3 linked regions of the Homo sapiens genome follow. Changing the gene in region 3 together with the main gene of any one other region gives a genetic interaction. Each region holds a gene or a part of one and is shown on either strand. Other genes may lie near its edges.

What was found.
Region 1: changes in CUL5 (region 3) and SEC23IP together harm fitness less than expected from each alone (positive genetic interaction), as found in Homo sapiens cells (one large-scale study listed by BioGRID).
Region 2: changes in CUL5 (region 3) and IGF2BP1 together harm fitness less than expected from each alone (positive genetic interaction), as found in Homo sapiens cells (one large-scale study listed by BioGRID).

The regions. Positions count from the first base shown.
Region 1 is NC_000010.11:119,906,018-119,909,752, reverse strand, and holds part of SEC23IP (SEC23-interacting protein), read right to left. Parts: intron 713-3,735; coding exon 623-712; intron 1-622. UniProt on the Homo sapiens protein: Plays a role in the organization of endoplasmic reticulum exit sites. Specifically binds to phosphatidylinositol 3-phosphate (PI(3)P), phosphatidylinositol 4-phosphate (PI(4)P) and phosphatidylinositol 5-phosphate (PI(5)P).
Region 2 is NC_000017.11:49,049,385-49,052,884, reverse strand, and holds part of IGF2BP1 (insulin-like growth factor 2 mRNA-binding protein 1), read right to left. Parts: coding exon 3,441-3,500; 3' UTR 1-3,440. UniProt on the Homo sapiens protein: RNA-binding factor that recruits target transcripts to cytoplasmic protein-RNA complexes (mRNPs). This transcript 'caging' into mRNPs allows mRNA transport and transient storage.
Region 3 is NC_000011.10:108,105,501-108,108,417, reverse strand, and holds the end of CUL5 (cullin-5), read right to left. Parts: 3' UTR 2,212-2,917; coding exon of another isoform or gene 2,131-2,211; 3' UTR 657-2,130; downstream 1-656. UniProt on the Homo sapiens protein: Core component of multiple cullin-5-RING E3 ubiquitin-protein ligase complexes (ECS complexes, also named CRL5 complexes), which mediate the ubiquitination and subsequent proteasomal degradation of target proteins.

The sequences.
Region 1 (3,735 bases), on a different chromosome or scaffold from region 3:
CAGCTAATTTTTTTAATTTTTGTAGAGACAGAGTCTCTTTGTTTCCCAGGCTGGTCTCAAACTCCTAGCCTAAAGCAATCTTCCCACTTTGGCTTCCCAAAGCGCTGGGATTACAGGTGTGAGCCACCACACCCAGCCTGAGAAAAATTTACTTTTTATTTTGAGACGAGGTCTTGCTCTGTCACCCAGGCTACTAGAGTGCAGCGGGGAGCAATCCTGACTCACTGCAGCCTCAACCTCTCGGGCTCAAGTAATCCTCCCACCTCAGCCTCTTGAGTAGCTGGGACTACAGGCATGTGCCACTACACCCAGCTAATTTTTCTATTTTTTATAGAGACAGGGTTCTGCTGTCCCCCTGGCTCAAGCATTCCACCTGTCTCAGCCTCTCACAGGTGTGCACCTCGCCCTACGAAAAATTTGTGTTTTTGTTTCTATGATCAGTGTGAATCATAGAAATAATATCTGTATTATCCACTATAATAATAAAGTATTTTAAAAGCAATGCACTTGTTACAAAAACATTCCCACTGTAGAAGTTACTAAAAATGAACAATTTATCAAACATACACAGAAAAATATTAAAATGAACTTAATACCTTAAAATTTTGAACACCATCATTACCTTTGGATTGTGCATAACAATTGTCTCTCCACTTGGAAACTCTAATCTTCGGTGCCACTGATTAGTGGTTACAGCTTTTTTATATTCAGCCTATAATGGGGGAAACAACATATATTCCAACATGACAAATTTATACCACATGGAGAGAAAGTATGGAGGAAAACGGTCACTATAATGGTGATAAAAATAACAGTAATAGCAGTTCTCATTTCCTGACTGGTTAACATATTTTTTATCACCTTACACATACCATTGAAGTAATTACTCTCAATCACGCCTAAGTAACAGGATCCCCATTATATAATGAAGAAAACCAAGTTTTAGATGGTCTGTTCATTTCCTAGGGCTGCATTAACAAAGTATCACAAACAGAGTGACTTAGAAAAAAAATGTATCATCCCATAGTTCTGGAGGCTCCAAGTAGAAAATTAGGTGCCAGGAAGGCAGGCCACCGTTCCTCTGAAAGCTATAAAGAAATCCTCCTTCCCTCTTCCTAGCTTCTGGTGGTGGCTGGCAATCTCTGGCTTTCCTTGGCTTGCAGTGTAACTCCAGCCTTTGCCTCCATCATCATATGGGATTCTTTCTGTGTGTCTGTCTTCACATCACAAGTTATATTGGCTTTGGGGCCCATCCTATTCCAGTAAAACCTCACCTTAACTAATTACATCTGCAATGACCCTATTTCCAAATAAGGTCACATTCTGAGACACTGGGGATTAGTAATTCAACATATTTGGGGGATGGGGAGACACAATTCAACCCATAATAGACATTTTAAGTACTGTATACAGTTGCACAAGATGACACAACTGGGAAGCAGCAATGGGAGAACTGTAGTTCATTGCCACCCAGGACTGACTTTTTCTTTTTTTTCATGTGGGCTGGAGTAATATCACCCAGGACTTTCTGACTCCAAAATCTTCACTGTCCAACCATCTTCTTACTCTTCCTCCAGATATAGTCTTTCTTTGGTTTCTGCAGGGCACTGGATCCAAGACCCCTCAAAGATACCAAAATCCCTGGTGTTCAAGTCCTTTATATAAAATAGCATTATTTTTGCATAAAACCTACATACATCCTCCCTTATACTTTAAATCTTCTCTAGATTACTTATAATACCTCATGAAATGTAGATGTGATATCAATAGTTAAACTGTAATTTTTATTTTTTATTTTCTTGAGACAGAGTCTTGCTCTGTTGCCCAGTCTGGAGTACAGTGGTGCAATCTCTGCTCACCGCAACCTCCGCCTCCCAGGTTCAGGCGATTCTCCTGCCTCAGCCTCCCGAGTAACTGGCACTACAGGCAATGAGCCACTACATCTGGCTAATTTTTCTATTTTTAGTAGAGACAAGGTATCACCATATTGGCCACGCTGGTCTCGAACTCCTGACCTCAGATGATCCGTCCACCTCAGCCTCCCAAAGTGCTGGGATTACAGGCGTGAGCTACGGTGCCCAGCCTGTGTTATTTTTATTGTTGTGGTTTTCTAAATATTTTCAGAGTATTTGGTTGAATCTGCAGATACGGAACCTGTGGATACGGAGGGCCGATCGTACTATTCTAGTTTCTATAAAGAACAAGCGTGAGGACCTCTTGGGGAGAGATTCAACACAAAGTAAGAGGGAGCCTCTGGCATATCCACAAGTCCTTTTTTTTGTTCATTTATTTTTTTAATTGACAAGTAAAAATTGTTACAAAGTCTTTTTTTTAAAACTAGTAACAGTGAGTATTTGACAATCACGTGAAAATAGAAGTATTTCCTTCTGTTTCTTGGACAATCATTGAGTAACAGTAACAATTCCTCTTCATCAGTCTTCCGTACTTTTTTTTTTTGAGATGGAGTCTCACTCTGTCACCCAGGTTGGAGTGCAATGGCGTGATCTCAGCTCACCGCAACCTCCGCCTCCCAGGTTCAAGAGATACTCCTGCCTCAGCCTCCTGAGTAGCTGGGATTACAGGCGTGCATAACCATACCTGGCTAATTTTGTATTTTTAGTAGAGACAGGGTTTTACCACGTTGGCCAGACTGGTCTCGAAATCCTAATCTCAAGCAATCAGCCCGCCTCGGCCTCCAAAGTGCTGGGATTACAGGCGTGAGTCACCATGCCCAGCCTAGTCTTTTGTACTTCTGACCCTCCTCTTCGATTTAAAAAAAAAAAAAACTTCAAATATAATTCATAATTTCTAAAAGCAAGGCCACAAACAACAAGGATTAAAGAAAGAAAACTTTCACCACCTTAAAAATTATTTTCAGGCCACGTGTGGTGGCTCACGCATGTAATCCTAGCACTCTGGGAGGCCGAGGTGGGTGGACCACCTGAGGTCAGGAATTCGAGACCATCCTGGCCAACATGGTGAAACCCTGTCTCTACTAAAAATACAAAAATTAGCTGGGCATGGTGACAGGCGCCTGTAATCCCAGCAACTCGGAAGGCTGAGGCAGGAGAATCGCTTGAACCCAGGAGGCTGAGGTTACAGTGAGCTGAAATCACGCCACTGCACTCCACCCTGGGGGACAGTGAGATCCTGTTTAAAAAATAAATAAATAAATTATTTTCACTTCTTCATATTCCCTTTCAATCCACAGCTTTATAGTAAGTATTATCTGGTAAAGATTTCACATTTCATTGTCGAAATGGTCTTGGTTATCCTTGACATTTTGATCTTCCACAAAAAATTTAGAAGCAGCTTGCAAATTTTACCAAAAAAAAAAAAAAACCCTGATGTGAATTTTGATTGGGATTGCCTAAAATTTATCTGATAATTTGGGAAGAATTGACATCTTTTATGATAGTGCCTACATGAACATAATGTTTAGCTCCGTTTCTTTTTTTTTTTTTTTTTTCTGAGACAAGGTCTTGCTCTGTTGCCCAGGCTAAAGTGCTGTGACACGATCACAGTTCACTGCAGCCTCAAGATCCCAGGCTCAAGCAATCCTACTGCCTCTGCCTCCTGAGTAGCTAAGACCACAGGCATGGGCCACCATGCCCAGCTAATTTTTTTGTGTGTATTTTTTGTAGAGACGGGGTTTTTCCATGTTGTCCAGGCTGGTCTGGAACTCCTGAGCTGAAGCAACCCACCCACCTTGGCCTCCCAGAGTGCTGGGATTAC
Region 2 (3,500 bases), on a different chromosome or scaffold from region 3:
ATCCTAAAGAGATGGTCCTTTCTTAAAAATATATATGTAGCACACACACACACATATATATCTTAGAGCACAGAAGCATTTTTTTTAAGTCACTCTTCTCAAATCATCCAAATCTCCCAAGTGCTTTTCGCGATAGCTTGTTATCTCACCAAGGATGGGGAAATGGAGGTGCTGAGCAGGAGGGCAAGGAGTTGCCCTAAGACCTAGCCTACGGGGCACAAGAGGGCCCGGCCCACCAAGACAGGTCCTTCATCCCACTAAACCTTAACCACCAAACCATGCTCCTTTTGCTTTCTGGTGGTATAACTTACATGATTTTCCTGCTGGGCAAATATCAACAATGAGTGGAGCCTTGCCTAATCCAAGCAAGTGAAGTTTTCCAGTCCCTTGCCACACACTTCCTCGTCTCTTCTGGGAGCTGAATCAGCCAACGGAAAAGGACTTGGGCTCAAGGTGTGAAGGGAGCAGGCCCCCAAGGAAACTGAACACTGCAACAATCACATTTCAGGTACTGTGGGATTTTTTTTTCTTCCTGATGATAGTCTGAACCAGATATCAAAGCATGCTTGCTGCTGGAAATTCGCTTTAAATTACTAAATGGCCGACGTCTGAACGTTATCTGCTTTGTTTTGGGATAAAGCATATAGAGCCAGAGATGGAAAGCTGGGAGACCCTTTTTATGGTTGGGACAGGTGGAGAGGCTTAATTCTACTGGCCTGATGTTATCCCTAAATGTTTTTCTGCTTCTATTCAATTTGGGCCAGACAATTCTGGGGGCTACAAGGGAATGTCCTAGGGAGAAAATGATAAGGCAGGAACCTGTCCCAGTCACGTCCCCATATCCCCTGCCCCTCCTTGCCACCAGCCACCCTAAATCAAGAATTCCCTAAGTTTGGGTCCACTTTTAAAATCAATCAGACCGATCTAAAGAAGACAGGGAGACAGAGGTGGGGGCAGTTAACTAGTATCTGTTTGCCCCTTAGATCTATGGATATAGATTAGGAAGAATAGCAAGACGGAACTGAAATGAAACAATAACAAAAAAAAAAAATGAAAAGCATTGCAATGACAAACCAGGTGGACCTCTCTGAGGGCGAGAGGGTGGCCTTGTCTTTTTTCCACGAACGGAATCTCAGCTCCCATATTTTTAGACAGAGAAATATAGGTTTTTTTAAAGGGTATATTTTTTAGTTATTATTTCTCTCCTCGATAAAACGGAGGCAATATTTTAAAATATCTCAACAGCACCACTGGTGGGAAAAGCTGGCTGAGATGCTCTTTAACCAAAGGAGGAAAGAGAGGAGACCAAGGGCCAGCTGGTTGGTTGTTGGGCATTGTTTAACCACTGAGAGCCCCCAGCTCCACTAGGCCTTTTAATCCTATCAGGTAGGATATTCCAGCAGCCGCCAGCAGCTGGGGCTCTAGAAGTCAGAGATCAGGGCCAAACAAGGCTCTGGGCTCTGCCCCTCTGGGCTCTCTCAAACCTGGGCCTTCCCTCTTAGCACTAGCCTCCTCCTAAGGGGGCAGCCCCCAAAGCCTTTCCCACCAGGCCTGTTCTCCATAGAGAGTTCCTAAAGGGTTACTGGCTCATGTTGTAAGAAATTATGAAACATAACTTTCTTGTTTTTTCTTTTCATTAAAAAAATAAAATATTCAAGACTATCAGCTTCTCTTTTGCTTTGCTTTTCTTTTTTATATAAAATATCAGCAAGCTGCAAAAAAACAAAAATCAAAAAAAAATTTTTTTAATGGGGTTGGGGGGAACAAAAAGGAAAATAATTGCTGAGGTAACTTCATACCTTGAGGTAGTTTACTTCGCACACAGCATTGCCTGACTACGCCCACATGTTGCGGTTGTCTTGTTGTTACTGTTGTTGCAATGTTGAAAGGAGGGGAACTCCACGCATGGGCTTTTCCATATGTAGAGAGGCCTTCCTCCCTTCCCAGCACACTTGATAGCATTGTCCAGGGTAGCTAAAGTGCATTACCTGGCTAATATGCATTGTCAATCAGTATATTAGGAGGAGAGGCCTAACCTCATTTAACTGATGGCTTCTGTCTCCCACAAGGGCTAAACACTCCATGGGATCTTAATTAAGCCTGGTAAATTAATAAATTAAGCTTATTTACCCCTTGCTGTACAATGCTGCTGGTATTCTGAATTGTTTTTTAGACACACCTTTCATCATGCTGATAATGATTCATGGAGACAGAAGCCGTCAGTTAAAAATTCCTCTCAGATACAAACAGAAGCAAGTACTCTCCAATTTACTGAATTTGCCAGATGATGGACTTTAGCTTTATCGGGAGCTCAGGGTTGGGTTCCAAGTCCCACCACCAAGGTAACAGTGCCGTGGCTGGGAGTGCCCCACAACCCCTGCCTCTAGGAACCAGCCCTTATGGGAGCACATGGGCTGGGGTGAGGGCACCGTGGCAGCCTTTGGGGCCACTCAAGTCCTCCATGGAACCGAGACTTTATCAAGGGGAGTTAGCGTCCCCTTCCCAGTGCTCATATCCAATCATTAAAATAGACTTTAAAAAAATATAAAATCCGCCTGAGAACGATGGGAATCAGGGACAGTGGTCAGCCCCTACCCTGCTGAGCATTCAATACCACCTATGTGCACCTGGACATAATGTGAAACCTACACGGGAGAGGGACATGAATGTGGTGGGGAAGCCCCAACAGAGTGGGGAAATTTCAGTTGTGCCAATTTGAAGATGGTGATCTGGCATAGATCAGCCACAAGTGCGCTCCTTTTAAACGTGGATTATTATGTATTTTAACCATCTTTCTCCCCATTTTCCCCTCTTCTTCATTCCGTATTGTACCTATTGGTTAGGGAGTGATTGGAATTAATCTACAGATACTGACAGTTCTTTTCCCTTGAGTCAATACTGTAAGCAAAGCAATGCATTCGTTCGCATTTTTTTCTGGTAGCAATAAAGATAAAAAAATTAGTGTAAATATAGAAAGAGGCCGTAAATGGAGGTATTTTAATCAATTACCCAAGTAGGGGGAAGAAGATTGGAAAAACATTAAGGTCAAGAAATGAACCATCCTTTAAGGCTGATTAAAACACCTCTCTGCATGTTTTTAAAACCTGAAGGAAATTTTATTTTTCTTCCCACTGAGGTGTGATCCACCCTCTTGGTGGGGCCTGGAGAGCTTCTTTAAACAATCCACGTTTAAAAGTGCCTTGCGCTAGAATTTCTGACACCCCGAGGGGCAGACAGTGTTGGGCCAATTGGGTGGGTGTTTGGGGCTGAGAGATCAGGGTTCCTCACTGGAACATCTTTCTCAATCAAGTGGGCAAACCTGATCTACAGCCCGGCCCAGGTGTCCCGGATTCCCACTCATTCTCAGGCCTGCCGGGGAGAGCACACTCTCGATTTCTGCCCGTTGTTGTCCTGGACTCGAAGGGACAGGGAGGGGCTGGTCACTTCCTCCGTGCCTGGGCCTGGTTACTCTGTCCCTTCTGATGCTGCTGCTTAACCTG
Region 3 (2,917 bases):
TTTTTTTTTTTTTTTTTTTTGAGACAGTCTCATTCTGTCGCCCAGGCTGGAGTGCAGTGGCACAATCTTGGTTCACTGCAACCTCCGCCTCCCGGGTTCAAGCGATTCTCCTGCCTTAGCCTTCCGAGTAGCTGGGACTACAGGCGCGCGCTACTACACCCGGCTAATTTTTATATTTTTAGTAGAGACAGGGTTTCACCATGTTTGCCAGGCTGGTCTTGAACTCCTGTCCTCAGGTGATCCACCCACCTTGGCCTCCCAAAGTGCTGGGATTACAGGCGTGAGCCACTGAGCCCGGCCCATTTTTTACTTTTATCTGCTATAAAATTTGAATTTTGTTATGACATAGCCTATCTTAGTTGATGAATATATTAACCACTTTCAGGTTGGAATTTTTTTTTTTTTATTACCTCTTCCAGGCATATAGCCACATGCTATCATCAGTGGAAAAGCTACATTCCTGACTGCTCTCATTTTGAATTAGAATTTGAAGTCTAATATAAATAAGTGGGTTACTTTTCATATTTCTGATTCCTAAGGCTGGCTGAGATTAATTTACCTTCAAATTTAAAAATATACCTACTATAAAAATTTTAATTAAACTCTTTGTAACTATTTTATAGTAGAACATCAACATTTTCTGGATAGGTAAAAGCTTTTATATTACATTTTTATTTTGCAAGAAAATAAATTATACAACTTAAAAAATAAAATCCAAAAATTAAGCAGTTCATCAAAATATTTCAGCCTACTGCATACAGAAACTGCTACCACTTAAAATTGTACAGCATTATCATCTCAGTATGTAGTGGCACACATTCAAAATCGTATAGACCATATGAGGATAGATTACAACTTAGAAACTAAAATAAATTTGTTCAACACTCCAGACAACATATAGTGTAGATGACAGGAAAGCTCTCATGTAATGTTTATTTCACAAACATGACCTTGGAAGAATTCATAAGACAGCATCCCAGTCACTTACATGAGAACAGAAAAACCAGCTTGAGTTTAAGATAGCAAATCTTTCTGTAAAACTAGCAAATCTTTCACCCAGACTGAAGTTTTAAAATTTGCCCTTTGAGCAGTGCTAGAGACATCTTACTGCAAATAATGCAAAATACTTTTTAACTACTCAGGTCATATTTTCTATTAAATTTAATAAAAAGTAAAAGAAAGAAAGCTAACATTTCATTTTTGGAAGGTTTAACATTTATGCACAAAATAAGAGCAAGAGACTTAAATAAAAAAGTTGACAGAACTCAGGGACCCCTCCAATAAATGTAAAAATTGGAAGACTTCAGAATTTATTTCAAGATCCTCATTTAATCATTGGAATAGTAATATTCTAATATTTATCTCATTGTGACCATCAAAATTTTTCTATATTTTTACTTCTTAAACTCTGTCTTATGTCTACTTACTCCGGCAACGAGATGGCAACACAAGTTAACATTTTCCAGATGGGATGTCTCTGTCTTTAAACTAGAAGATGGGTATTCAGAGGTTAAGATAGCCTCTGAAGTGTCTTATTGCCATACCACTAATTTTTAAAAATTAAATTTTTTTTTTTTTTTTGGAGGGGGAGGCTGGATTTTCTTTTCACTTAACTGCAGGTTATATCCCTGCTCGGCACCAATTTTAAGTGTACGCTGGAGAGAAGAGACCTGAATAAAGGATGCCAACTGTGATTCCAGACCTTTACAAACTGCTGGTAAGATTTTTTTTTTCATTTTTTTTTAAATTAGCAAATCTGTTGTTAAATTACTTAAAGAAAATTTAACAATGGCATAGGCACCTTGTCAACTAAATGATTTTCATAAACACCAAAAAGTAGTTAAAACTTTTGTATACATAACCAAAAAAAAAAAAAAAAGAAAACTGTACATTTACAGTATTTGCTGCTGTTCATTCCCCAAAATACAATTAGGACATAATTGGCTATTAAAAATTTATAAAATTTAATAAAAAACTTTGCTATGAATGTAGTGTTACCCACTTTTGCATTAAATTCACCTTCATAAATCAAAACATCATGACTCTCATTCTTAAATTAAATGACCCAAAATTAGAAGTTCCAAAAAAGTTCTGAGAACAATTATGGTTTAAAACAACAAACCTAAATTTTTAAAATGGACGGCAATTTTTCCTGTTTCCTCCTTTGGCATTCTTGTATTGGGACAAGCAAATACGCCAATGCTGAATTATCTGTTAAACATAAGGGCCACAATTACTACAAAATTATTTCTTCTAAATTCCAAATATACCCATTATGAACAGTCACCTAATTAGAGAAAACTGTACGTATTAATTTTAGTTTAATTCTTCACAATATGCTCGGTCTAATAATTGACATTTGCTACCTTAAAGTGTAAAATTTTAAACAAAATTCCAATTTCCTATAAGTTTCAGAACAGGCATTTGGCTATACTCAGCAAAACTCTAAATGTTTTAAAGTTGCTTTCCTTCCATTCAGCAGGCAGTTCACAAAGCCTCTTCGGATGGGGACAGATCCTACGAAATGCTCTTGAAAGCACTCCACTGTAACATAATACTGTATGCCTTTCTGTACTCCATTTCCTACTATCTTCAAAAACCATACTTTAAAAATATTACTTAACATCAAATAAGATATAAAATAATTTGCAAGAAAATTTGAAACGTGCACCACAATGAATAAAAATCCACGTTGAGCCATTCTTTCCTCAAGGGGAATCAATTTTCTCTTTCAAGTTGTTCACGTCCTCAAGTCCTAAAATTTCCACTACTCTGGGTATTCAGTTGCCAGCAACTAGTTAAGTTGCTACTTTGGATAGACTGAAAGGAACATGGTAAATGTTGCCTTCTGACGATTTAAAAAATGTTTATTTTTAAAATATATAAATATATATGTACATATATTTGGCAAGTTTAC